Homo sapiens: one gene and its partners. The protein of the gene in region 2 purifies or fractionates together with the protein of the main gene of each other region. This does not show direct contact. Each region holds a gene or a part of one and is shown on either strand. Other genes may lie near its edges. The genes, in order: ANXA5, TRIM59, HSD17B4, RAD23B and PPM1B.

Region 1 (6,471 bases), on a different chromosome or scaffold from region 2:
AGGTAAATCTGTTTTAATGCATTAAAAGTATTAAATCAATTTAACACATTAAAAATGTTAAAAAGTGGATTATCTACAAAACGTTCAGTTCCCAAGTGAATGACTCACTATGGCTTATCAAACCTCTCAAATAATAGAAATCTTCTTAGTGCCAGGTATCAGTAGAGACAAAAATGCAAAAGCTTATAAAAGAGCCCTTTAGCTGTCTCAGCTTACTCTCAATTAAGAAATCTCAAATTCTCACTAGTGATAACAGTCCAGCTGCCCTTGCTACGAGGTACAAGTTGGTGTGTTCCTTTTTATAATGCCAAAAGATTATTTGTTTTCAACAGGTTTATTAATTAATAATAATACATTTGAAAGAATCAAAAATAATAGCCAGTGTAACATGTTCTGTATTGCTCCTAGTCACTGGAAGGCTAAGAAAAGCTTGGATTCCATTCAAGGGATACTTTAAAGTAACTCCATAAAGCAGTTTTCACATGTACAGTCTCACATGTACTCTCAGGGTTCTGAATGGTTATATCCACTGCATGACACGTAAGTGTCACCTATACAGCCTCAGTAATCAAAGGACCAAGAATGCAGGCATTACCTGAGAGCATGTTCAAAATCCAGACTCCCAGCCCCTGCCCAGACCCATAGAATCAGAATCTGCAATTAAAGGTCCCAGGTGCGCCACATGCCCATGAAAGTTTGAGCAGCAGTGCTATCCAGTAAGTGCTCCAAGGACAGAAATCAATGAAAACAAGGTTAAAATGTACTGTTTTCCCCTCAGGAGCCTCGTGCTGCAGCAATGCTCTCATTACATCACCAACTATGCTGGGAAATCTGCCCTCTGCCTGTGAATGCAGGCCTCACTGCAGACATCTGAGAGGACTAGAGTTGGTTTCTTACACTGTGACCCTGAAAAGCTCCCAGAACTCCTATCCTACTCTTGACAGTAGGAATGAGAGAATCAGCACTATCTCCTAGCAAAGCCACAACCAATGCTTGGAAAGCAGTAAGATCACCTCAGTACTGAACAAAGCCCCTAACAGGAGTACAACTCTGTAGGGTTGCTCTAGCCCTCTTCCCGAAAGAAGGTGGAATTAAGCTAGATCTATGCTTGAGTTGATATTTAATAAGCCCTTTAATGATAGAGAAAATCAGGGAAGGCACTAATACTCAAGAACACTGAATATCTTACAGTGAAATATTCTTATAGTGAAATATTAATATTCAATAACACTGACTATCTTCTAGTGAAAGAGAAAGAGCTTTGGAGTCAGACAGGCCTCGTTAGGAATTCCAACTCCACTGCTATTCAGTGGAAGCCATGGGTTTGTTTCTTTATCCATAAAAGGGAAATTGCCCCTTTCTGGTAGAGTTATGTGCTCATTCATTCATCAGTTATTTACTGAGCACCTACTCTATGCCAGAAGCTGAGGATACAATTGAACTGACAGCTCAGGGGGCCCAGGAAGGCAGTGAAGTAAATAGATGGCTTCCAGAGAACGTGGCAAGAACTGTGACAGGAAGCCTGGGGGCGGGGGGGGGTATGGTTTTCCCTGTGAGGGGCACCTAACTCTAAAGTATCTAAGCTGAAGACTGACTCTTGAAGAGGACTCAGGTGAAGCGGGGTGGGAGGGGCAAGAGGGCAGAGAGAGCATGTGAGAGAGGCTGGAGGCATAAGTAAACAACACACAGATAACAAAGGGGCTTGTAACCCATTCAGGAACCCGGACTTTATCCTGAGGGCAATGGAACCACCAGAGTCTGAAGGGGCTGGACACAATTGGCTTGCATTTTCTAAGACAGAGTGAAGCAAGAGTCAAATACTGCACAGAGAGCCCTCGGTAAACATTCAGTTCTTTTTTTCTCTCCAGCTAGACAGAGATGACAGCATTCTGAAACCATTATAAAATCAACCTACCCAAAAGAATAACCGCTCTCCTCTTTCCTGTTAGCAAAGTGAGATCGCATATCCATGGGTTGTTCCACTGGAGGAATGAATATGGCTCTTCCTTTTTCAATGATACATGACAAACAACCAAGAATTGTATATTCTCTTAATTGAAACATGTGACCAGAAAGAGGTCTATGATTGGTGGTTCTAGGAACCCAAGTAATTCCTTTATTACCAATTTCCAGTTTTCAGCTCTCATGTTTCAAATTTCCTTTCCTATATTTTAATAACTGTTTTATTAACCAGACTGAGACTTTATAGGGGTTTATAAGTCACTTAAGAGGAAATTTTCATTTGGAGTCACTAAAAAGCTGCTGACAGAAGACCAATCCTACTTAAAATTCTGTCGAAGGAAATGCAGAGAAATTTCCTAATACCAAAATAACTTGTCATCTCTTATGTAATTAAACACCACTTACTGTTAAATACTTTATTCTTTCTTCTTTATCTTCTCCTGCTAAGAGACCCACTGCATAATTGGCAGTGGAAGTAATAACACTGTTTTTTGGTAAAATTCTCTATTTTGTGAATGTTCAATAATCACAAAAAAAAACATGTCTAGTTGGAACTCACTATATAATTTATTTTATTTCGTTTCAGCTTTAAGGTAAAATATTTTGCTGACCAGGTCAGAATAAGAAAAAGCTACTTATGTAGGTCTTATGCTATGTAAATAACCCATTAACAAGATTATCACTAGAAGCTATTACAACATACATTGTGATTTTTCATTACCATGAATTATTTCTTCATTTCTACAGCATAATAAAGTCATCATATCCTGGTGTCACTCACCTGAGCATCTTGTTCAACTTGAGCTTCATCAATTCCAGCATCAGGGTCTCTGTTAGCCTATGAGAGGTAATATGTCACATTACTGAACTATAGAGCATTCTCATTCAAAAGGAAAAATGGTTCCACCTGATGGTTATTCAATAACACTCTTTCTCTAGGAATAATATGCTTTTATTAAGATCAATCCTGCACTATTTCACGTTATCATCACCCAGCACTGTCCAAAACCAATAATGACCCTACTGATTTTAAATTCTATGAAAGAACAAGATACCGCTATCATTCTATGAAAGGAACAAGATACTACTATCTAAAACATGTATGAGTTAGCTGTTAAGAATTTAGACCAGATATTCTGAAACACAAACAAGCACAGGCAACATACAGTCAGAATCATCGCAGTAAGAATCAGCAAGTACCACAAATTATTAAAAGAATTTTAAGTGACCTTACTTAACTAGATTCAGCCCAGTCCAACTTCAGGCTTTTTAATCAAACTGTAATTAATCTCCACGCAATACCTGAAGGAGAACCACCAACATCCGCTGGTAGTACCCTGAAGTGTCCCCCACCACGTCATCTTCCAGGCTTGAGCCATATTCTGCAACAAAATAATTTCATACTTATTTACATCTTCTTTCAACTAGAAAAGTAATCTTGCCCCATTAATCAAATGAAAGCGATGTAAAAGAAGAAATAATTATATTTGGTTAACATAAATTCCCTCTATTCCATCTCTGAATGCTCTAAGCAAATGCTTTCAGTGAGTGGTTGGACAAAAATGAATTAAAGTCTCCCAAAGGCACTCAATTCAAACTTAAATCAAGACTCAGCCATTTAGAAATTCTCTCGACCAATGTAGTCATTAATCTATAGATACATGATGGTACTGGAAAGTCTCCAAAACACAATCAATCATAAGCTTAAACTCTGTTTTGCTTTCTTTCAAATCTTTTATATGGTTAGCTTCCAAATGTCTTCTATCTCTAATATTCTGAGATTTATTTCTTTGGGCATGGCCATCACTCCTAATAAGGTATTTTTCCTCTGCAGAAATAAAGTTAACTCTTGAGAGACAGCAATGATATTTTAAAGTAGGCCCCCCTCCCACCTCTATTTCCAGCTGCTCAATGTAAGCCCATATAAAAGGGGAGAACTGGGATCTACAAGAGTCTACAAGTCTTTCTCACTACTCTCAAACAGATGCTATTAAAGGAAAGGAGGCCTTACTCTAAGGTATTTAAATATTTAATTATTATGCAAAAGCAAACGAACTTTAAAAGCCTGAAACTTCTATTTTAAAAGGCCCAGAAGAGTTACATGTTTATTTCAACAAGTTACCCAAATACAAAACCTTGTAGGAATCTTTAATTCTTTCTTCTACACCAACACCTGTAAATATTAACCATTAAATCCTATCACGTTTCTCCTGTCCCTGATTTATCCTCCTCACACCTCTCACTCACCTAGGTTGGGCCACAATTCCTAAATACCTAGCTTACCTCCCACACACATAACTATCCAATTAGCCTCTCAATTCAAATCTCCTTCCTCCCTCAATTGTTCCTTCAGCACTCCACTGCTCATTCAGGAATTTACAGTGCCTGTGAATTAAGTCCAAATTCCTAATCCAGTCATGCAAAACCATCTATATCTGAGCCTAACCTCGCTTGTTCCATTTACCTCCCACAATGGACATGCACACATCCTCCACAGCAGCCAGGCCCTCTCCGTCCCTCAATACACTCTCCACAGTCCAGTCTCCATGCCATTAAAGACAGGCAGTACCTCACCCAAAAATATCTTTTCTACCTACTCAAAATGCACCTAGTCTTTTTTTCCCAGCTTTATTGAGTTATGATGGACAAATAAAAATTGTATATATTTAAGGTATACACCATGATGTTTTCATATATGTGTACGTTGTGAAATGATTACCACAATCAAGTTAATCAGCATATCCATCACTTCATATAGTCTATATTTTTGTGTGTGGTGAGGACATTTAAAATATACTGTATTCACAAATTTCAAGCATATAATAGTTATACTTTCACTATAGTCACCACGCTGTTCATGAGATCCCCAGAACTTATTCATCCTGCCTAACTAAAATCGTGTATGCTTTGACCAATATTTCACCAGTCCCTTCTCCCATTCACCCCACCCCTACACCCTAGCAAACACTGTTTTACTATCTGTTTCTATGAGTTCAATTTTTTTAGATTCAACATAAGAAGTGAGATCATGCATAGCTTATGCCTTGTGCCTAGCTTATTTCACTTTGCATTATGTCCTCCACGTTTATCCATGATGTTGAAATGACAGGATTTCCCCTCTTTAAGACTGAACAGTACTCCTGTGTGTGTGTGTCTGTGTTTGTGTGTGTGTGTGTACGTATTCTTTATCTATTCATCTGTCAATGGACACTTTGTAAACCCACCTAGTCTTGAAACTCTGCTGCATGTGTGATTTGTACCATGAAGCCTCCCTAACATCCAAAGCTATGATGACCTCTCTCTTCTGAATGCATTATTGCATTTAACATCATTGGTATTTTACTTTAGTTTGAATTTCATTATCCTTTAAATATTGCAGTCATTCTGTCATGTCACCCACTGAGGAGACTGCACACAAACTGCTTGAGGACAGGAGCTGTGTTATGCACACCTTTTGTCACTCATGACAGCCTGTTAACACACTGCCAGACACATAGCCAGTGCTCAATTACACGGCTGAGTAGGACAGACCACACAGTTATTACCCCCTTTGAGCACACCATTTGTAATCCAGTAGCACAAAGGCTCTCATCAACGTCAACATCCCCAGAAAGAGATCTTTGAATAGTACATCAAATAAAGTTCAAAGTTGAGATACATGTATCACTTCTGCCTTAGCGGTTGGGAACTTACTGCCTATAAAAAGAGAAGCAGGAAAGAGAGATTCAGCCCTTTAGAAAGGTAATTATACAGTTGCTCTAAACAATTTTTTGCTGTTTTGACTTGCTGGGTTAACAAAGCCATTTCTAAGATTAACAAACTAATGGCAAGATACAGCCCCTAGCAAAAGACACTAGGCTTGGAGTCTGTTGACTGAGCTGAGAAACTGGATAGTCTGACCCTCCTCAGTCAGGCAGGAGAAAGAGTTGGCTACAAGAAATCTGGTAAGAAAAGGACTCTCTACCTCTACTTTTTACTTCATTTTCTTGATTCTATTCATGAGACATATTTTAGGCCGAAATGCAGATTTCTGTTCATATAAAAGACACACTAAAAAGAAAAATCAAAATGCAGAATATTTTATTCAAGCACTGCCATTAGCTAAGACAACATACATTTACTCAAATGTACTTTATCAACTCTGATGTGGGAAAGGGTTTAGGTTTCTCTTCCAAAGTTCCAAAAGTACTTTTTATATAACTCCTAAATTTTGCTAGCATAAAGCTAAATATTTTTAAAGGAGGAAAAACCATTTTTACCTTAATGTTAACATAAAGACAACCTGTATATCCCTACACTAATTGCAAATCCTATGCAAAAGTAAACTCCATCTTCAGCAGTAGCTTCTTATAAAATATGAAAATAGTAGAGGATAACAAGGCAGTCTTTTCCTTACTGAAGGAGAAAAATAGCTTGAATTGCAGGTCATTCATTCATTCATTCATTCATCCATCATTTACTGCGTGCCTCCCATACCTACAAAGGACTGCATTCAAATCACAGAAATGA
Region 2 (3,500 bases):
CAGGTATGTCTTTATCAGCAGCATGAAAACAGACTAATACACTACATAATAAAGACTAAAATTCAAAGTGTTCTGTTAAAGTCTACTTAGTGATTACAACTATTTTGTGCAACATTTTAACATTTAAGATGATAAAATCAAAACCAAGCACATATAATGAGTAGACAAGACTATTTCTATTACAACAAGTTAGGCTTAGCAAAAGTATATTCTTTAACACAAAAGGAGGAAACATGTCCCAGTTGGCTCAATAATGGTTTCTAAAGCAAGCTATCAAATTTCTCCACAGTAACTGTTACTACCATAAATTTTTTAGCTTCTCAAATTAGAATACAAGAACGCTTAAACCCCAGGATCAGCATAGTATAATTCTCTAAAGCAATAATTTTAACTTGCAGATTTAGAAGACAGAAAAATTTTGAATTAATTCTTATAATAAAAATCAGTTTGAAAGATAAGAGTTGACTATAGTAACTGTGAATTAATTTTTAAGTGAAAAACTAGAGCACTAAATGGTAAAGAACAAAAAGAAGACCATTAGTCATCTTTCCTTCATGAAAGTCTCTCGATCCGTATTTCTCTGAGACAGAAAAAGAAACGTAGCGATAGTTCAGAGACCATCTCTGACACAAGTAACTTGACCTCTTGGCAAGCTACTACTGATATTTCCAGTAACAGAAGCCTGACCATTTTGCACCCTACCACCTCCTACTGCTTTCCTTTATACCTACCCTCAATGCATCAGCCACAATTCTAAAGACTAGCTTACCCCTTGATAGAGAAAAATCAAGTTATACCACTGTTGAAAGTACCTTAGGCAAAACTTAAAAACCCAAGTGCCATGGCCAGGCGCAGTGGTTCACGCATATAATCCCAGCACTTTGGGAGGCCGAGGCGGGCGGATCACCTGAGGTTGGGAGTTTGAGACCAGCCTGACCAACATGGAGAAACTCCATCTCTACTAAAAATACAAAATTAGCCCAGTGTGGTGTCAAATGCGTGTAATCCCAGCTACTTGGGAGGCTGAGACAGGAGAATTGCTTGAACTCAGTAGGTGGCGGTTGCAGTGAGCCAAGATTACACCACCGCACTCATCTGGACAACAAGAGCGAAACTCCGTCTCAAAAAAAATAAACACCCAAGTGCCATTCACGTAAAATATAAAGGTTACCAAATCACATGCTATAAAACTAACTTTTAAGATTAAAAATCTGTGAAAACAGCAACTAAAAGTAACTAACTGCATTTTTAATAAAATGCAAACTTGGCTCCTTATCTTTACGATCTGTCAAACTCTTAACTCTTCCTTCAAGGCTCAACTTGAGCCTGCCTTTTCCCCAGATTAGGTCCCCTGTTATTCTCATTAAACACTGCATTTTTACTTCATAGCACTTTAACAAGATTTTATTTAAGAATTTTGTAACTTTTCTGTATACATTAGAATGTAGGCCTCCTATAAGGGCAGGAATTGTGTCTAAACAATGGTTATATTCCTGCAATTTAGGCACAAATTTTAACACTGCAGGCATTCACTTGTTACTGCTTCAATGAACAAATGCCTTTTCAGAGACCTGTGTTAATACAGATTTTTGTTTTGGGGTTTTTTGTTTTTTGTTTTTTTAATAGCAAAATCTCTGCTTAGGAAAAGGTGTAAAACGAAAATCTATCAGAAAATACTCCATTCAGGCCAGGTGCGGGGGCTCACGCCTGTAATCTCCGCACTTTGGGAGGCCGAGGTGGGTGAATCATGAGGTCAGGTGATTGAGACCATCCTGCCTAACAGGGTGAAACCCCGTCTCTACTAAAAATACAAAAAAATTAGCCAGGTGTGGTGGTGGGCGCCTGTAGTCCCAGCCACTTGGGAGGCTAAGGCAGGAGAATGGCGTCAACCCGGGAGGCAGAGCTTGCAGTGAGCCAAGTTCACACCACTGCACACCAGCCTGGGCAACAGAGTGAGACTCCATCTCAAAAAAAAAAAAAAAAAAAGAAAAAAGAAAAAAAGCACTCCATTCAAACTGACAATATTCAGATCCCGAATGAGCCAAAGTGTGTCACACAGAGACTAAGCTTGAACTGTAGAGCATTCCAGCAAATTAAAGTAATTGAGCAACAGTAAAGAAGATGACATTCACTGCAGATAAATTCAAGTGAGTGCATGCTGGCAAGACTTTACAACTTTACCCTACACCTACAGAAAGCTATGAAGTCATACAGAAACCACCCAAGAAAAACAAATGTGTTTTTCAGAGTATTTCAGTGATGTCAGAATTCACATTGAAGGAATAAACAGAATAACACTTTGTAGGAAATAAAATTTGAGCAGTCGACGTACATTTAATCTAGATTTAATATTACTGGAGCTATTCAATTGTTTAAGTAGCAAAACTAGTCCTAAAACAGAATCTAACTTTTCTATCCAAACCCCTATTCTATGCTTGCAGAAAACTAGGGAACAACTCTGAGAATGCACTTAGGGGCCCAAAAGCTCAACTTTCTTTAGAATGAGAATATTCATGACATTGTAAAGCATATCCTAAGCTTATATAAAATGGAAGCAGGCCAAAGCAGGTGGATCACTTGAGGCAAGGAGTTTGAGACCAGCCTGGCCAACATGGTGAAACCCTGTATCTACTAAAAATACAAAAATTAGCCAGGCATGGTGGCGCACACCTGTAATCCCTATAATCCCAGCTACTCGGGAAGCTGAGGCATGAAATGGCGCAACTGCACTCCAGCCAGGGCAACAGAGCAAGACTCTGTCTCAAAAAAAGGAAAAAAAAAAAATAGGAAGCAAAAATCGTGGTTGGTCTCAAAGTTACTGCTATCATATGTAAAATTTTTAATAATACTTTTTAGACAAAAATTTGTGGATAACTTGAAGTTCACAGAAGTCAAAATCTATTCTCAGACTACCCTTTTCTCACTGATTTATTGATTAAAAACTAATTTTAGGCAACAAATTCAAGAGAAACTAGAACTGAAAAATAACTTTGTAAGGTCAGGAACTTTCTGACTCTGGTTGCTGCCTGAGAAGTAAACTATATAGGTGGGCCAGGTGCAGTGGTTCACACCTGTAATTCCAGCACTTTGGGAGGCCAAGGTGGGAAGATCACTTGAAGCCAGGAGTTCAAGACCAACCTGGGCAACACCAAGAGACCCCCATTCTCTACAAAAAATTAAACATTAGTCAGGCACAGTGATACACGCCTATAATCCCAGCTACGCGGGGAGCTGAGGCAGGAGGATCACTTGAGCCCAAGAAGTTGAGGCTGCAGTGAGCCACGACTGTGCCACTGCACTCCAGCCTAGGCAACAGAGCAAGACCCTGCCTTTTTTAGAAAAAAAAAAGATACAGGTGGCTACCATGCTTACAGGCTAGTTCTTTCAGAAACCAATATGAAATTTTATGCAGCAGAAATTTTCCACAACCAGTCTAGGCTTCTGAAAGGAAGAAAAAGAACAAAAAATTAACCTATGTATATTTTCTAGGATGAACATCT
Region 3 (4,768 bases), on a different chromosome or scaffold from region 2:
ACAGCCTGATTTCAACATACAGAGTATTCAGGACAGTTGAGCCACATGAAGAGATGGCTCAGGATGAATTCTAACACTGTCCAGAGTACTTTATTTGTCTTTTTAGTTTCTCCTTTTCCCTCTCTTAGATTTCTCTGGACTGTACCCTGCATTTCTTTTCCCTAATGGGAAAGGAGATCAGAGCGATTGGGTATCAGTTTCCAAGGTTTTGCCTAGTAGCCGAGTGGGGCTTGGAGAATGGAGGTAACCCACTCAGCTTCTTCTCCTGGTTGGAAACAGAGCTGCTGAAAGCTTATCATGAACTTTTTAGAGGGATACTCCTTACTTGCATATAATTTTTGGTAGGCTCCATTGGGGGGTGTGATGAATCAGGTTAGCTGCCTGAGTGGTGCTTTAGCCAACCTCATTTTTACCCCCTGCAATGCTGTTTGGAAATTGACTCAGGGAGGTACTGAATGGAAGAGGAAAAAAGGGAGTAGTACCTCAACTGTTGATAAAATGAACTGTGGCTAAACTGATATCTAGTCCAGATATGTATGCCTGCCTGGACTGTCTGTCTTCCATATACAGTTCTCATTCTACCCGTTCATAGTTCTTTATCTCTTTAAGGATAGCTTTAAATTGACTTTAAGTAGATTTGAGTTGTGTGGGAATTTGTATTTGGGAGGGGAGACTATGACACCATGACTTCTGGAGGTTATATGCTCCCAGGTTCTTTGTTGTGTTTTTTACCCCTTTACCTAATGCCCATAAGGCTTTAAACCTCTATGTTGAAAGTGAAGTGCCTATAATCAGCAAAATTTTGTTTGAAATGTAAATAATTTTGAAACTTTTTTCACATACAAAAAAATTATTTTCTAAGCTATTTATTGCTAAATGAGTGATGATAAAACTGTATAAAATATGTACTAAATATTGATAGAATTTGAACATAAGCTCAGATATTAAACTTTTGCTTTTTCTTTTTCAGTACCATTAGATTTCTGTATCTAACTGTATGACAAGTATCATTTTTTTTTCTTGACCATCAGTAATCCTACTTTAGTAACATTTTCTGACTCTTTAGAAAAGGATATCTAGTTTAGTGCTCTTTTGGGTCCGTTTCTTTTAAGGGAAGCATCGATATTGTATTTTAGAACTATTTCAACATGGCTGCAAGTAAAATGCTTCCCATTGAGTCAGAAATTCGAGAACAATTGTGATAGCTCATGTGAAATTTGCCTATTTACTGTTCCTGTTTGTATTCTTTCTTAAAAAAACTGTACTGGATAAATAGGAAGAAGTAAATCATATGCCATATTAGATTCTGTTGTTTTGTAACCTATGGTAGGCATTGTGATAAAGAAAATTAAAATTCTAATTTTAAGCCTGAGAATGTGGTCAGTATAGAAATGTGATTTTTCCTCAAAATAAGGGTTGGCAAACCTTTTTGATGAAGGGCCATATAGTAAATATTTTAGGCTCTGTGGGCTACATAGTGCTTCTATTCTAGTACATATTCTTTCTCTTTTTCTTATTTTTAATCAACCTGTATAAACCATTTTAGCTCTTAGTCCTTGTTTGCCAACTTCTACTTTAGAATAAAAATGATTGAAAAATTGGACATTATTCTTTTATATGTACTTCACTTATTAGCTACGCATATTATCACTAAGTAGAAAAAGACAACATCCAGTTAGACAAAGGATATTCCTGGGAAGGAAATTCAAGTTAATTTTATTTTACTTAACATTATGAGGGACTGGGCGCAGTGGCTCACGCCTGTAATCCCAGCACTTTGGGAGGCCGAGGTGGGTGGATCACGAGGTCAGGAGTTCCAGACCATCCTGGCCAACATGGTGAAACCCTGTCTCTACTGAAAATATAAAAAAAAATTAGCCAGGCATGGTGGCACGGGCCTGTAGTCCCAGCTACTCGGGAAGCTGAGGCAGGAGAATTGCATGAACCTGAGAGGCAGAGGTTGCAGTGAGCCAAGATCATGCCACTGCACTCCAGCTTGGGCGAGAGAGCGAGACTCCATCTCAAAACAAACAAACAGAAACCATTATGAGGCAATCAAATTTACATCCATTAAGCAGTGTTTTACTCATCTGTTTACAGTGAACTTTATACATTAGATCTTACAAGCAATTTACTATCCTTAATAACAAATTCATTATTTTTTGGATTTTTGGGTAGCTAATAGTTGCTGAATTAGAGACAGGAAAGTTGAGTATGAGGCATACTGTCTGTTAGCAAGAAGCAAGCAATAAAAAACTTCTTAACTGTAAATGAAGTCCTTTTCTACACATTACCTAATTAGTTTCTATTAAAAAATAAAATATAATTGCAATAATTATGCTCCATCAAATTCACTAACATTCTAGTCACATCTATTCAAAAACAAAACTAGGTATGTAAGAAGTTAATAGTTTTGAAAAGTTATCAATGAAATAAATTACTTTTTAAAACTGTTCTTAGGCTGGAGCTATTGGCCAGAAACTCCCTCCATTTTCTTATGCTTATACGGAACTGGAAGCTATTATGTATGCCCTTGGAGTGGGAGCGTCAATCAAGGATCCAAAAGATTTGAAATTTATTTATGAAGGAAGTTCTGATTTCTCCTGTTTGCCCACCTTCGGAGTTATCATAGGTCAGAAATCTATGATGGGTGGAGGATTAGCAGAAATTCCTGGACTTTCAATCAACTTTGCAAAGGTATGCCTAATAAAAAACCTTTATTTTGCTTTTCTATTTCTGTAAATATTATTCATTAATGTCATATCTTATATATATGTGTGTGTAGTGTGTGTATATATATTTATATAATTATTTATAGTGGTTAGTTTAGCATATCTTTTGATTTTTCTTTTTAAGAATAAAAGAGGGGAGAGTTAGTTCAAAATGCCAGCAAAAAGAAGAAAATAACAAGTATGTGTAGTCCCATAACCCTGGCATAATGTTATTCTCTCTCTGCCATTTACTTGATTCTTGACCAAGGGTAAATAACATCTCTAGGCTTCAGTTTCCTTATCTATAAAATGGATATGATAATCCTCACCTCATGACATTGGTGAAGAAGCAAGCCAGGGAGGAGTATTTAAAGCAAATAGCACATACTTGACTTGTTTTTGGAACAGTAATAGGGCCAGCATAGCTGTAGAGTGAGCAAGGGGGCAATGGTAGGAGAAGGTCATGGAGTAATTGTAAAGATTTCAGCATATACTTTGATGAACATGTGAAGCCATTTGTTGATCTGAGCTGAGTAGTGACATGATCTGGCTATGTTCACAGACTGGTACAAGCTTGTTGCTTTTGGAGACTAGGTTATAAGGGAGTCAAGCATGAAAGCAGAGAAACCACTTAAGAGTCTATTATAGTAATCCAAGTAAAAGTGCTGCATATGAGGGTTAGAAAAGAGGAGTCAAGGATGAAGATGTTTGTTCTGGATAATTGGGATATGTATATATATATAGAGAGAGAGATGGGTGCATATATATACATTGTATATAGTTATACATTGTATATAGTTATACATTACACATATCTATATGTAATGTATAATTATGTATAGTGTATTTAATATGTATAGTAATTACATATGGCATTATGTATAATTTATACATACACATTTATTTTAAGGTGGGGTTGATCAGGAGTTGGTTTTAAATATGTTTGAGGTGTCTGTTACACATTTAAGTGGAAATATAAGATGGACAGTTGAATATATGAGTCTAGAGTTCAGGGAGGGGTCTAACTGGGTCCTTAGCATTTACGTGATGTTTAAATACTGGAGATTAGATGAAGTCACCTAATGTGTGAGAGTAAGTAGAGAAGAGGCCTGAGTTTAGAGGCCCTGAAATGTTGAGAGGGTAAAGAGATACAGAGGAACTAGCAAAAAGAGACTGCACAGGAATGGTTGGTGAGGTATGAGGAGTATCATGAGAATAGGGTATTTGAGAAGCCAAATGAATGAAGTGTGTCAAGAAGGAGGAGGGAACAGTGGTGAGAAGTTCTTTGAGACAGGGTATATTTTATTTCTTGGAGTAAGATTCAGGTTATGAGCCTGGTAATAATTTTTGAATCATGGGGCTATGAGCTGGTATCTGTAACTTTGACTGATTGGAGAACTTATTTACTGGTGGATCAGTTAGCCCATTGCTGCTCTGAGTTGATGGCCACTTATTTTATTAGAGTGTTTCATGAAGTTGGGAGGAAGACAAGAAATATGTGCTGGGCAGTTTGCTGTTTCATTCACACTCCCATGGTTAGTTACTATATACTCTGAACAATGTAAATGCAAAAAATTAAAACAAATGTTTCAAAATTCCCCCTAACAATTGGAAATCGTAAATGGTGTTCATGCATCTTGGAACTTGAATCCTAGTCTTCTTAACCTTGACTTTTTCAAGCCGTATGACACAGTAAAGCTGACCTTCATTTGTCTTCTCATCAACCACCTCCCCTTCTTCTTCTTCCTTTTTTTTTTTTTTTAAAATCCTTTTGGGTTCTGAGGAAGACTGGTAAACTGGCCCTCTGCAGTGAAAGTGGGATCATTTGAGTGTATGCTTCAAGTTTTGGTTTTCCTGTCCTGTTGTTTTCCTATATACCTTGGTGCATTCTTTGTTTGATACATTGAGGTTAAGTGGCTATTAAGTTACACAGTGTCCTTAGTATCTACTCTTTGTAGATAATTTACAAAGTATTATAAGAAAGGGATATTCACATTGACAGTGCTTTCATTTTGAACATGGTTGTAAGGTTTTTCTTTGTGTTTTAGTTGTGTCGT
Region 4 (5,176 bases), on a different chromosome or scaffold from region 2:
TCCTGCCTCAGCCTCCCGAGTAGCTGGGACCACAGGCACCCGCCACCATGCCCGGCTAATTTTGTTTTGTATTTTTTTAGTAGAGACGGGGTTTCAACATGTTAGCCAGGGATGGTCTCGATCTCATGACTTCGTGATCCACCCGCCTCGGCCTCCTAAAGTGCTGGGATTACAGGCGTGAGCCACTGCACCCGGCCAACTTTTCTATTTCTTTTAGAGTCAGTTTTGGTGGTTTTTGACTTGGAATTTGTCTATTTTATCTAAGCTGTCTAATTTGTTGGCGTGCAATTGTACATATTTCCTTATAATCATTTTATTTCCTCTTTTGATAAAGTAATAATGTTCCTGCATTTATTCCTGATTTCAGTCATTTGAGTCCTAAGATATTTTTGTTTTTTCCCTTCAGTTTAGCTAAAGGTTTTAATTTTGTTCATTTTGTGGTGGTTGTTGTTAATGACAAAAATAACTTTGGGTTTTGTTGATTCTCCCTATTGTTTTTCTAGTCTTTTGTTTTGTTTTGTTTTAAGTCTCTCTAATGTTTATTTCCCTCTTGCTTGCTTCTAGTTTGTTCTTCCTTTTTTAGGTTAGGTTTAGTTTAGTTCTTTGTTTAGTTTTAGTTTAAGATTAAATTATTATCTATCTTTGTTAGCATAGATGTTTATAGCTATAATATTCCTTCTGCGTTTATGCTATAGTAGCATCCCATAAGTTTTAGTATGTTGTATTTTTGCTTTCTTTCATCTCAAAATGTTTTTTAATTTCCCATTTGGTTTCTAATTTAATTCATTCGTTATTTAGGATTGTGTTAATTTCCACAAGTTTATGAATTTCCCACATTTTCTCCTTTCGATTTCTAAATTCATTCCATTATAATCAGAGAATATACTTTCAATACTTTTCAACTTATTGAGGTTCGTTTTGTGGCCTAACATGGTATTTCTGAAGAATGTTCTATGTATACTGAAGAAGAATATAGTGTAGTTCTTATTAAGTGGTCTATAAATATCTGATAGATCTAGTTTGTAGTCAAGTCTTCTTCCTTAGCTGTTTTATCTATTATTGAAGGTGGAGCTGTAGTTGTCTCTATTATTGTTAATTGCCAATTTCTACCTTTAATTCTCAGTTTTTATTTTATGTATTTTGTGGCTCTGTTATATATAATTGTTGTGTCTTCCTGAACCCTTTTTATCATAAAATGCCTTTTGTCTATAGTAACAATTTTTATCTTAAATCTGTTTCCTCTGATATAGCCATTCTAGCTCTTTTTTGGTTACCATTTGCATAGTATATACCTTTTTCTATCATTTTACTTTCAACCTACTTGTGTCTTTGAATCTAAATTGTGTGTTTTGTAGAAGCAGGCAGTTGGATTGTACCCTTTACTTCACCTATCCTAGCTTTAATCTGGATAAAACCCAGATAACAAACTGATTTTTTAGTTTCTTCTGCTTTCATAGATGAATAGTTATTCGTGATGAATTGGGATTTTTGCCCAAATTTTAAGGGTTATTTCCAAATATAATCTGACACAGCAGTCTTTAACCTTTTTGGCACCAGGGACCAGTTACGTAGAAGACCTTTTTTTCTACCAACATAGGTGGGGTGGGCGCAGTGATTTTGGGATGAAACTGTTCCACCTCCGATCATCAGGCGTTAGTTAGGTTAGGAAGTGGGGTGGGGCGGTGGTTTTGGGATGAAACTGTTTCATCTCACATCATCAGGCATTTGTTAGGCTATCATACGGAGCACAGACCCTAGATCCCTCTCATGCACAGTTCACAGTAGGGTTCATGCTCATATGAGAATCTAATGCCGCCACTGATACAACAGGAGACGGAGCTCAGGTGGTAATTCGAGTGATGGGGAGTGGCTGTAAATACAGATGAAGCTTCACTTGTTCGCCCACTGCTCACCTCCTCCCGTGCGGCCCAGTTCCTTGCTCACCCACTGCTCACCTGCTCCTGGGCAGCCCAGTTCCTAACAGGCCAATGGCTGGTGCCAGTTCACGGTCTTGGGGTTTGGGACCTGTGATCTAACTCAAGGTGATTGAGACAATTGAGGAGGGTGACATTTGGCTGAGTTTTTAAAGGCTTTTAAAAGGAGTGAGTATTGTCACAAGTGATTTTTAATATAATAGACTAGGAAAATGAAATTAAGTAGCTGGTATTACCATTTAAAATGCTGTAACTGTTAAGCAGATAAAAATAGAACATTATCTTCAAAATGTACCATGTATTACTAATAATTGGTCACCTGTTTTTCTAGTATGGAGTGTTGAATAAAGCAAGGAGATTGAGAGTGATGTTTGATCCAAATGAAAGACATGAGTTGACATTAATAAATAAAACATAATTTGCTTTTAATTTAGAAATAGGTGAGGTGGTTAAACTATACTGCAGGTACTCTCATCCTTATCTTCACTCTTAATATACTAAAAGCCATTTGATTTACATATTTCTGTAGAGTCATTTATTTTTAAACCATAGCAGTTAGCAGCTAATTTTTAATTAGGCCAAAGAGTATTTGCATAGTATCTATTAAGCTTTAACTAGAAACAAAGACTTTTTTAGGTGATTAGTAAAGGAAAGGGTCTAGATTCCATCTAATCCCTTGGGTTGGGCAGTAAATCCATATTGATAGAGATGAATTCATGTAAAATTCTCAAGAGCTTTTTTGGGTTGCAGTATGTTTTTGAGTAATGATTTATCTTTAGTGCTATGCTGGAATCTATAATATGTAAATAAAATTAAATGTGCCATAATTGGTGTGTTGGATTTATATTTTTTTCCTTTTTCTTCCAGTTAAAGGCATTAGGATTTCCTGAAGGACTTGTGATACAAGCGTATTTTGCTTGTGAGAAGAATGAGAATTTGGCTGCCAATTTTCTTCTACAGCAGAACTTTGATGAAGATTGAAAGGGACTTTTTTATATCTCACACTTCACACCAGTGCATTACACTAACTTGTTCACTGGATTGTCTGGGATGACTTGGGCTCATATCCACAATACTTGGTATAAGGTAGTAGATTGTTGGGGGTGGGGAGGGAGGGATCTAGGATACAGGGCAGGGATAAATACAGTGCATGTCTGCTTCAATTAGCAGATGCCGCAACTCCACACAGTGTGTAAAATATATACAACCAAAAATCAGCTTTTGCAGGTCTTTATTTCTTCTGTAAAACAGTAGGTAACTTTTCCTAGGTTTCACTCTTTTTAGTGTACTAGATCCAGAAACTTAGTGTAATGCCCTGCTTTATATTTCTTTGACTTAACATTGGTTTCAGAAAGAATCTTAGCTACCTAGAATTTACAGTCTCTGTTTCATGGCAACACTGGATAATGGCTTTGTGAAATTTAAAAAATTTTTGTAGCGACTGTAAACAGAAATGCCAAATTGATGGTTAATTGTTGCTGCTTCAAAAATAAGTATAAAATTAATATGTAAGGAAGCCCATTCTTTCATGTTAAATACTTGGGGTGGGAGGGGAGAAAGGGAACCTTTTCTTAAAATGAAAATAATTACTGCTATTTTAAAATTTCTTGATCATTGAATGTGAGACCCTTCTAACATGATTTGAGAAGCTGTACAAGTATAGGCAGAGTTATTTTCCTGTTTACATTTTTTTTTTGTTTTGGGGAAAAAATTGGTAGGTGTCTAATTACTGTTTACTTCATTGTTATATTGCAGTAAAAGTTTTAAAACAACCATTGCATGTTTGCTTTTGATGTATCCCTTTGTGAAATTAGCACTTTTGGGGCCAATGGAGAAATGCAGCATTCACTCTCCCTGTCTTTTCCCCTTCCCTCAGCAGAAACGTGTTTATCAGCAAGTCGTGAGTCAAACTGCTGCCTTTTAAAAAACCCACAAAATGCTGATTCAGTTCAAAATTAATGCAAATGTTTCAAAACTGGGTTTCTGATATTTGTAAATGTGTTTCTTTATTAGATAAGAGTGTATTACCATTAAAGTCATTAGTATAATATTGCTTTCAAAAAGAAATGGTAGACAAAACTATAATCCAGCATCTTTTATTGCATTGGAAAGACTGGCAAAGTCTTTTGGATGGGTTGGGAGATGTGGCTGGAAAGTACTTTGGAAAATATACAATCAAGATATCTCATGGCATATTAAAAGAAAAATCTTAATAGCAGTGTTGGCTTTTATTTGGATTTTTTCATCTCAGTTTTTTCTGTGGAATCTCCTTCATTGGCATTGTTATTTAATCATAAACGGGGCAGATGTCTACTTGTTCAGTTTTTCAAATCTGTTTTCCTGAGTATAAATAAGAGTATTTAAAGAAATAATTTGGATTGCTTTTGTTTTTTGTTTCCTTTTTTTTAACCATCTGATACTAAGAAGATGAATTTGCACAGATTTCTCTGCATAATTTCTCAATATCTTTAGCACAGTATGGTGATGATGACTTTTAAGCATTTACATCACGTACTCATAACCTATTATGAAAATAAATGAAACTGGCTGGGTATGGTGGCTCATGCCTATAATCCCAGCACTTTGGGAGGCCGAGGTGGGCAGATCACTTGAGGCCAGGAGATTGAGACCAGCCTGACCGTCATGGCGAAACCCCGTCTATACTAAAAATACAAAAAATAGCCAGGCATGGTGGCGCACGCCTGTGGTCCCAGCTACTTGGGAGGCTGAGGCATGAGAATTGCTTGAACCCGGGAAGTGAAGGTTGCCGTGAGCTGAGATCACACCACTGCCATAAACATGACAGGCTTTTGGACTTTGTATTACCTGTATGTTTTATAATGGATCATGCATAATTTCTCAGGAGAATAAAATGAGAATTCATATATACGTTCATCTTTCAAGTCAGAGCAATGAGTTGGGAAAAGAGGTGGCATTTCTGATCGGATAATGGAATACTCTCATTTATTTTATGACATTCTCTGTCTACTCAGATCATAGTGAAAACTGGAAACAAAAAAAAAAAACAGCCTCTTCTTGGAAAGTGACAGCAGAAGGTGGCATGGAGCTTGTGTCCTTGGACAACAAATCTGGATATACTAGGATTAATTATCAGAAGACAGCTCAGGCCAAGTTTTGATCGTTCCATACAGTACCTTGTTTATCTGCTTCTTAAAGAATCAGCCGAGACACCATAAAAGAAATAGGCTTTTTGTGCCTTTTGCTGTTAATGTTTAATTTAC
Region 5 (6,471 bases), on a different chromosome or scaffold from region 2:
AGCAATTTTATTTCTGCTGATTCATTTAAATCACCTAGCCAATTACACCTACTTACTGTGGACAGACGACACACTAATGAATTTATATTACTTGGTTTGTTTCCTGATGATGGGCATAGAGTATCCCCAACTCCCAAAGTCAGTCTATCCCTGTAGCCCTTTTTGAGAACATCTTTGGCTCTAGATCAGATCCATTCAGCCAACTCTTCCTAAGTGAGGAAAGAAAGATCAAGATTAAGCAAAACAAAGGGAGAAATATATGAAGGAAAAGAAATACATACAAAGGATTGTTTCCCTTAAGTATTAAGCAATTGCCTTGTTCCTACCCCTATTATTGCCATTCAAGTACTGTCCTTCCAAGCATTCATTTCAATCCAAATACACATTTTGGGGAATATTTTAAGAGTTGACTTGAGGTTAAAGTCTTTTTTTTTTTTTTTTTTTGGAACGAAGTTTCGCTCTTGTTGCCCAGGCTGTGGTGCAATGGTAGGATCTCGGCTCACTGCAACCTCTGCCTCCCGGGTTCAAGCGATTCTCCTGCCTCAGCCTCCTGAGTAGCTGGGATTACAGGCACCCACCACCACACCTGGCTAATTTTTGTATATTTAGTAGAGACGGAGTTTCACCATGTTGACCAGGCTGGTCTTGAACTTCTGACCTCAGGTGATCCACCCGCCTCGGCCTCCCAAAGTGCTGGGATTACAGGCATGAGCCACCATGCCCGGCCAGGTTAAAGTCTTTAATTAGCACCATCATTTTATAGACACACTAACATCTAAATCTAATATCTAATATCTAAAAACTCTTAAACACAATTAACAAAATAAACACCTGCATTCCAACGGCAAAGTAATTCCATATTTATGCCTGTAAGATTTTGTCATTAGGAAAACTAATAGGAAGATGGAAAATTAAAGTCAAAATAAAACACCATTTCTCTCTCCTTAGATTAAAAAAAAGAGAGAGAGAGAGACTCTCAATATCAAACACAGACAAGAACACAGAGCTTTGCTGTTTGGTATAGTAGCCACTAACCACTCGGGGCTAGTAGGAATGTTAAATGAGGCTAATGCTAATAGAGATTTGCTGTAAGTGTAAAATACACAATGGATTTTAAATATTTAATTTATTAGTACTTTTTCACACTGCAGATAAAGACATACCCAAGACTGTGCAATTTACAAAAGAAAGAGAGGTTTAATGGACTTTCAGTTCTATGTGGCCAGGGAGGCCTCATGATCACTGCTGAAGGCAAGGAGAAGCAGGTCACATCTTACATAGATGGCAGCAGGCAAAGAGAGAGCTTGTGTAGGGAAGCTCTCCATTATAAAACCATCAGATCTCATGAGACTTACTCATTATCATGAGAACAGCACAGGAAAGACCTGTCCCCATGATTCAATTACCTCCCATGGGGTCCCTCTCAGAACACCTGGGAATTCAAGATGAGACTTGGGTGGGGACACAGCCCAATCACACCATTTAATATTTTTTAAAAGAATGCAAAATATCTAATTAACTTCATTGTTTATATATTGAATCATTTTGGAAATACTGGATTAAATAAAATACATTACTAAAATTAACTTTGCCTATGTCTTTTTTATTAATGTGGCTACTAGAAAAATTTAAATTACCTTACATTTATATAGGACAGCACTAAATTAAAACAACAGAAACTTTTGGCTGGGCATGGTGGCTCATGCCTGTAATCCCAGCACTTTGGGAGGCCATGGCGGGAGGATCACCTGAGGTCAGGAGTTCAGACCACCCTGGCCAACATGGTGAAACCCCATCTCTACTAAAAATACAAAAAAATTAGCTGGGTGTGGTGGCAGGTGCCTGTAATCCCAGCTACTTCAGGAGGCTGAAACAGGAGTATCGCTTGAACCCAGGAAGTGGAGGTTGCAATGAGCCAAGATTGCATCATTGCACTCCAGCCTGGGTGACAAGAGCGAAACTCTGTCTAAAAAAAAAAATATATATATATATATATATATACATATATAAAATACACCACTGGTAGGAGTATAAATTAGTATAGCAACATTGGAGAGAATTTTGGAAATATCTAGTTAGGGCTATAAGATAAGGATGGCCTACAGTTCAGCCATTTTACTCCCTAGAGAAATTCTCGCATATATATATGGCATGTAAATGGTTTTAGACCATTGATTAAAATTACAAAAATAATCCAAATGTCCTTCCAAAAAAGACTAGACAAAATGTGTTCTAGCTGCCTGTGGTGGCTCACGCCTGTAATCACAACACTTTAGGAGGCCAAAGGAGGTGGATCACTTGAGCTCAGGGATTAGAGGCCAGCCTGGGCAGCATGGTGAAACCTCATCTCTACAAAAAAAACACAAAAATTAGCCAGATGTGTTGGTGCACGCCTGTAGTTCCAGGTATTTGGGAGGCTGAGGTGGGAGGATCACTGGAGCCTGGGAGGGCAAGGCTGCAGTGAGCCAAGATTGAGCCACTGCACTCTTGCCTGAGCAACAGAGCCGGACTGTCTTATTAAAAAAAAAAAAAAAAAAAGAACTGTTCTAATCATACAATGGAATACTATGCAATATATATGCAATACTATGGAAAAAAGGGACTAGAACAAAAAAAGAACTGCAAAAATATTAAGTGACAAGAACAAATTGTAAAAAAAAAAAAAATTCTGTATATGGTCATGTACATACACCTCTTAAAACAGTACTATATGCTATTTAGAAATACATACATGTAGGCCGGGCGCGGTGGCTCATGTCTGTAATCCCAGCACTTTGGGAGGCCGAGGCGGGCAGATCTTGAGGTCAGGAGTTCGAGACCAGCCTGGCCAACATGGTGAGACCCCTGTCTCTACTAAAAATACAAAAATTAGCTGAGCGTGGTGGCACGTGCCTGTAATCTCAGCTACTCACGAGGCTGAGACAGGAGAATTACTTAAAACCTGAAGGCGGAGGCTGCAGTGAGCCGAGATCATGCCACTACACTCCAGCCTGGGCAACAAGAGCAAAACTCCGTCTCAAAAAAAAAAAAAAAAAGGTTATTTCACTTTCACATTGCAATTCCAAACACTCCAGAACAGATGAATAGAAACAAACTCAATTTCCTTAAGTTTAGGACTAGCAACCACCAAAGACTTAATAAAATGTTAGATTATATAAACAAAACCAGTTACAAGAGATAATTTTTTTAAATTCAAGTAAGGTTGTTTTTGGTTATTTTTAAATCTAAGATAGATGGCCAAATGTTGAACAACTTAATGAATCTGGTCTGAATTACAGTACTAAATTTAATATATTCCAAAATTTCAAGTTCTCTTGCATATCAGCATTTTGATAAAGTAACAGAATTACAAAAATACATTAAAAATGAAACTAGGCCGGGCACGGTGGCTCATGCCTGTAATCCCAGCACTTTGGAAGGCTGAGGCGGGCAGATCACCTGAGGTCAGGAGTTTGAGACCAGCTTGGCCAACATGGTGAAACCCCGTCTCTACGAAAAATACAAAATTAGCTGGGCGTGGTGCCGCAGGCCTGTAATCCCAGCTACTTGGGAGGCTGAGGCAGGAGAATCGCTTGAACTGGGAGGTGGCGGCTGCAATGAGCCGAGATTGCACCACTGCACCCCAGCCAGTTGGTTGATTTGCTTTAAAATTAAAAAAATCAATCTTGATTCACTTTAGCAATGAAGATCAAATGAAACTGACTCATAAATGAAAGCACAAGACCACCAAGCATTAAAATAAGAACAAAAAGATGAAAGATCTTTTATGCTTAAGTTTGCAATGTTTGTATAAACTGAAGAAGAGGCCTCTTTACCAAACTGGTTCAGTAGGAAAGCAATAGAAAGAACAGAAAGCAAAAATTAAGCACCTGCTTCACACATCTAAGTGCAATACGCCCATCTCACATGCAGAAAAAACAAAGGCACGACGTTAAGTAATACAACAAAGCTATGGAAGGAGAAGCAGTGATAAATATATAGACCAAGTTGTGCACAATAAACCAAGAGACAAATTGGCTCCATTAGCCATCTTTGCTAAGAGCACAAAAGTAGCCATTACAAATCAGTACCAGGCACTATTGGTCAACCACTAATCCTTCAGCTATACTCACGTAAGAACAGAAAGCTTTTTAAACATAAATGACAACATATATTTTATAGGTATATCCCAATTATTTAAATCAGACTTAAAAAATCCTGTTCACCCTTCTCCTATTGTTCCACCTTTACTCCCATCCTCCTTTCCAGGAACTCATCTATCCAAGGATGTACAGTAAATGGAAACACCTGAAGGCCCCAAATTTCCCTCATGTCTGTCTAATGCAGGGATCTCTTTTTCTCTCTTTGGGTCATCTTTTAATCTTAAACCAGGCAGGGCATGGTGACTCACGCCTGTAATCCCAGCACTTGGGGAGGCCGAGGCAGGTGGATCATGAGGTCAGGAGTTCCAGACCAGCATGACCAACATAGTGAAACCCCATCTCTACTAAAAGTACAAAAATTAGCCAGGTGTGGTGGTGCATGCCTGTGATCCCAGCTACTCGGGAGACTGAGGCAGGAGAATTGTCTGAACCTGGGAGGCGGAGGTTGCAGTGAGCCGAGATCATACCACTGCACTCCAGCCTGGGTGACAGAGTGAGACTCCGTCTCAAAAAAAAAAAAAAAAAATCTCAAACCAATGTCTTTCTCTAAGGCACAACAATATTTCCTCTTTCCTCTTTTCAGTCTAGTTTTTATCCAATTACAGAAAACCTCTTCCTTTCCTTTTGTTAAAAATAGTAAAGCTCTAATCACAGCTTTTAAGTTTAGTGTACAAAACACACACACCCCAAATCTTCCACTCAAGTTTTTAAGCCAGCCACATAAGGAGTTCAGCTGTAATGTAAACTGTGAGTTGCTGGTTAACAGAATGCAAGATCGTCAACGACAAGGATTTGGGATTTTGTCTGTTTTGTTCAGATACTGGCATGAAATGGGGGCCTTTGCACACAGAAGGCACTCAGTGAACATAAGAATTGGCTGGAGGGTTACAGACTAAATACTATTAGACTGTTCTGAATTCTTTACTTCTCAGTGGGTTGGTAGCTCAGAGTAAATAAAAGCAGAAAGCCTCCCAAAGCTCAACAAAATCTCCTATATAATCTTAACATTTGGAGTGCTTTGAATTAATTATGTTCCCCCACCCCCACTTTTGTTTTTTTTGAGACGGAGTCTCACTTTTGCCCAGGCTGGAATGCAGTGGCGCGATTTCAGCTGGGTTGAACCTCCACCTCCTGGGTTCAAGCGATTCTCCTGTCTCAGCCTCCTGAGTAGCTAGGATTACAGGCACATGCCGCCACACCCAGCTAATTTTCTGTATTTTAGTAGAGATGGGGTTTCACCGTGCTGCCAGGCTGGTCTCGAACTCCTGAGCTCAGACAATCCGCCCACCTCGGCCTCCCAAAGTGCTAGGATTATAGGCGTGAGCCACCAGGCCCAGTCATGTCCTCTTTTTAAGGGACTAAGAAAGGCCACCTGTGTTCAACAGAAAATGCCATTTCCCCACCTCAGAGATAAATGCTTTAGTCAGAACAAGGAAAAGGAAAAACACTGCCCAAATAGGTTAAACACCCATGCTGACACTTCTAGATTCTCCTACTCATAAGAACATCCAGTAACCAGCCCTTTTCAATGCGAGGAGTGCTCTTGATACCTACAATCAAGAAAATAAAATGCGATTAGATTTAAAAATGAGTTGACATTACTCTCAGGCTTAAAAGCGCTTCGCAAGCCTTCAAACTCTTACAAATTACTCTACATATTATTGATCAGAACTGCTTCTTCTCTGGCAAACAACACTTATTCATTTGTTTTATTTTCTTGTATATTATACGTTTGAATCTACCTGATAACATAACTGCATTTTAAAAGTTTTCTATAAAAGACAAGGTTTTTTCCTATTTCTAGCACACAAATGTACTTTTCATTCACAACTGATTCTGAAGTGAAGGCCATTCTACGTAGACAATAATCACAGCAATCCTAGAGACAAGTCTTATCCTCCCTATATCACTACCAGTAATTGGTACCATCTCTAAGAGAAAGACAAGTTCCTTAATAGTCAATACATGGCTTCCAAAGTTTGTCTGTCTCCTCTAAGTATGAGATCGGATTTAACTGGATCTTCTTTTGTTCACAAGGATGCAAAACAATTTTCCAAGAAGTGTTATGTTTCTAAACTTTAAGATTTTTAATTTTCAAGAAATGAATCAATTTAAAGCTAAAAAATAGAATACTGATGATACTTAAACATTCTCCAAGAGAAAAGTTTGAATCCATTTTATATTTACAAGTTAATATTAAACTGTGTGATAAATCAAAAGTTTTAAATTAGTAAAGTGTGTTTTAAATGTTATAAACCATGTCAAATGTATAATATATGAACTAACAAATTAAAATACTACAATTGATTAAGCTACAAGGTTCTTGAGG

What was found.
Region 1: the proteins of TRIM59 (region 2) and ANXA5 purify together in Homo sapiens (affinity purification with mass spectrometry, with the first as the bait; one large-scale study listed by BioGRID). This does not show direct contact.
Region 3: the proteins of TRIM59 (region 2) and HSD17B4 purify together in Homo sapiens (affinity purification with mass spectrometry; one large-scale study listed by BioGRID and IntAct). This does not show direct contact.
Region 4: the proteins of TRIM59 (region 2) and RAD23B purify together in Homo sapiens (affinity purification with mass spectrometry, with the first as the bait; one large-scale study listed by BioGRID). This does not show direct contact.
Region 5: the proteins of TRIM59 (region 2) and PPM1B purify together in Homo sapiens (affinity purification with western blotting, with the first as the bait; one study listed by BioGRID). This does not show direct contact.

What each region holds. Positions count from the first base shown.
Region 1 is NC_000004.12:121,675,151-121,681,621, forward strand, and holds part of ANXA5 (annexin A5), read right to left. Parts: intron 5,659-6,471; coding exon of another isoform or gene 5,606-5,658; exon of another isoform or gene 3,345-5,605; coding exon 3,265-3,344; intron 2,801-3,264; coding exon 2,744-2,800; intron 1-2,743. UniProt on the Homo sapiens protein: This protein is an anticoagulant protein that acts as an indirect inhibitor of the thromboplastin-specific complex, which is involved in the blood coagulation cascade.
Region 2 is NC_000003.12:160,439,787-160,443,286, forward strand, and holds part of TRIM59 (tripartite motif-containing protein 59), read right to left. Parts: intron 1-3,500. UniProt on the Homo sapiens protein: E3 ubiquitin ligase involved in different processes such as development and immune response. Serves as a negative regulator for innate immune signaling pathways by suppressing RLR-induced activation of IRF3/7 and NF-kappa-B via interaction with adapter ECSIT.
Region 3 is NC_000005.10:119,496,857-119,501,624, forward strand, and holds part of HSD17B4 (peroxisomal multifunctional enzyme type 2), read left to right. Parts: intron 1-2,460; coding exon 2,461-2,697; intron 2,698-4,768. UniProt on the Homo sapiens protein: Bifunctional enzyme acting on the peroxisomal fatty acid beta-oxidation pathway.
Region 4 is NC_000009.12:107,326,742-107,331,917, forward strand, and holds part of RAD23B (UV excision repair protein RAD23 homolog B), read left to right. Parts: intron 1-2,801; coding exon 2,802-2,915; 3' UTR 2,916-5,176. UniProt on the Homo sapiens protein: Multiubiquitin chain receptor involved in modulation of proteasomal degradation. Binds to polyubiquitin chains.
Region 5 is NC_000002.12:44,173,983-44,180,453, reverse strand, and holds part of PPM1B (protein phosphatase 1B), read right to left. Parts: intron 1-6,471.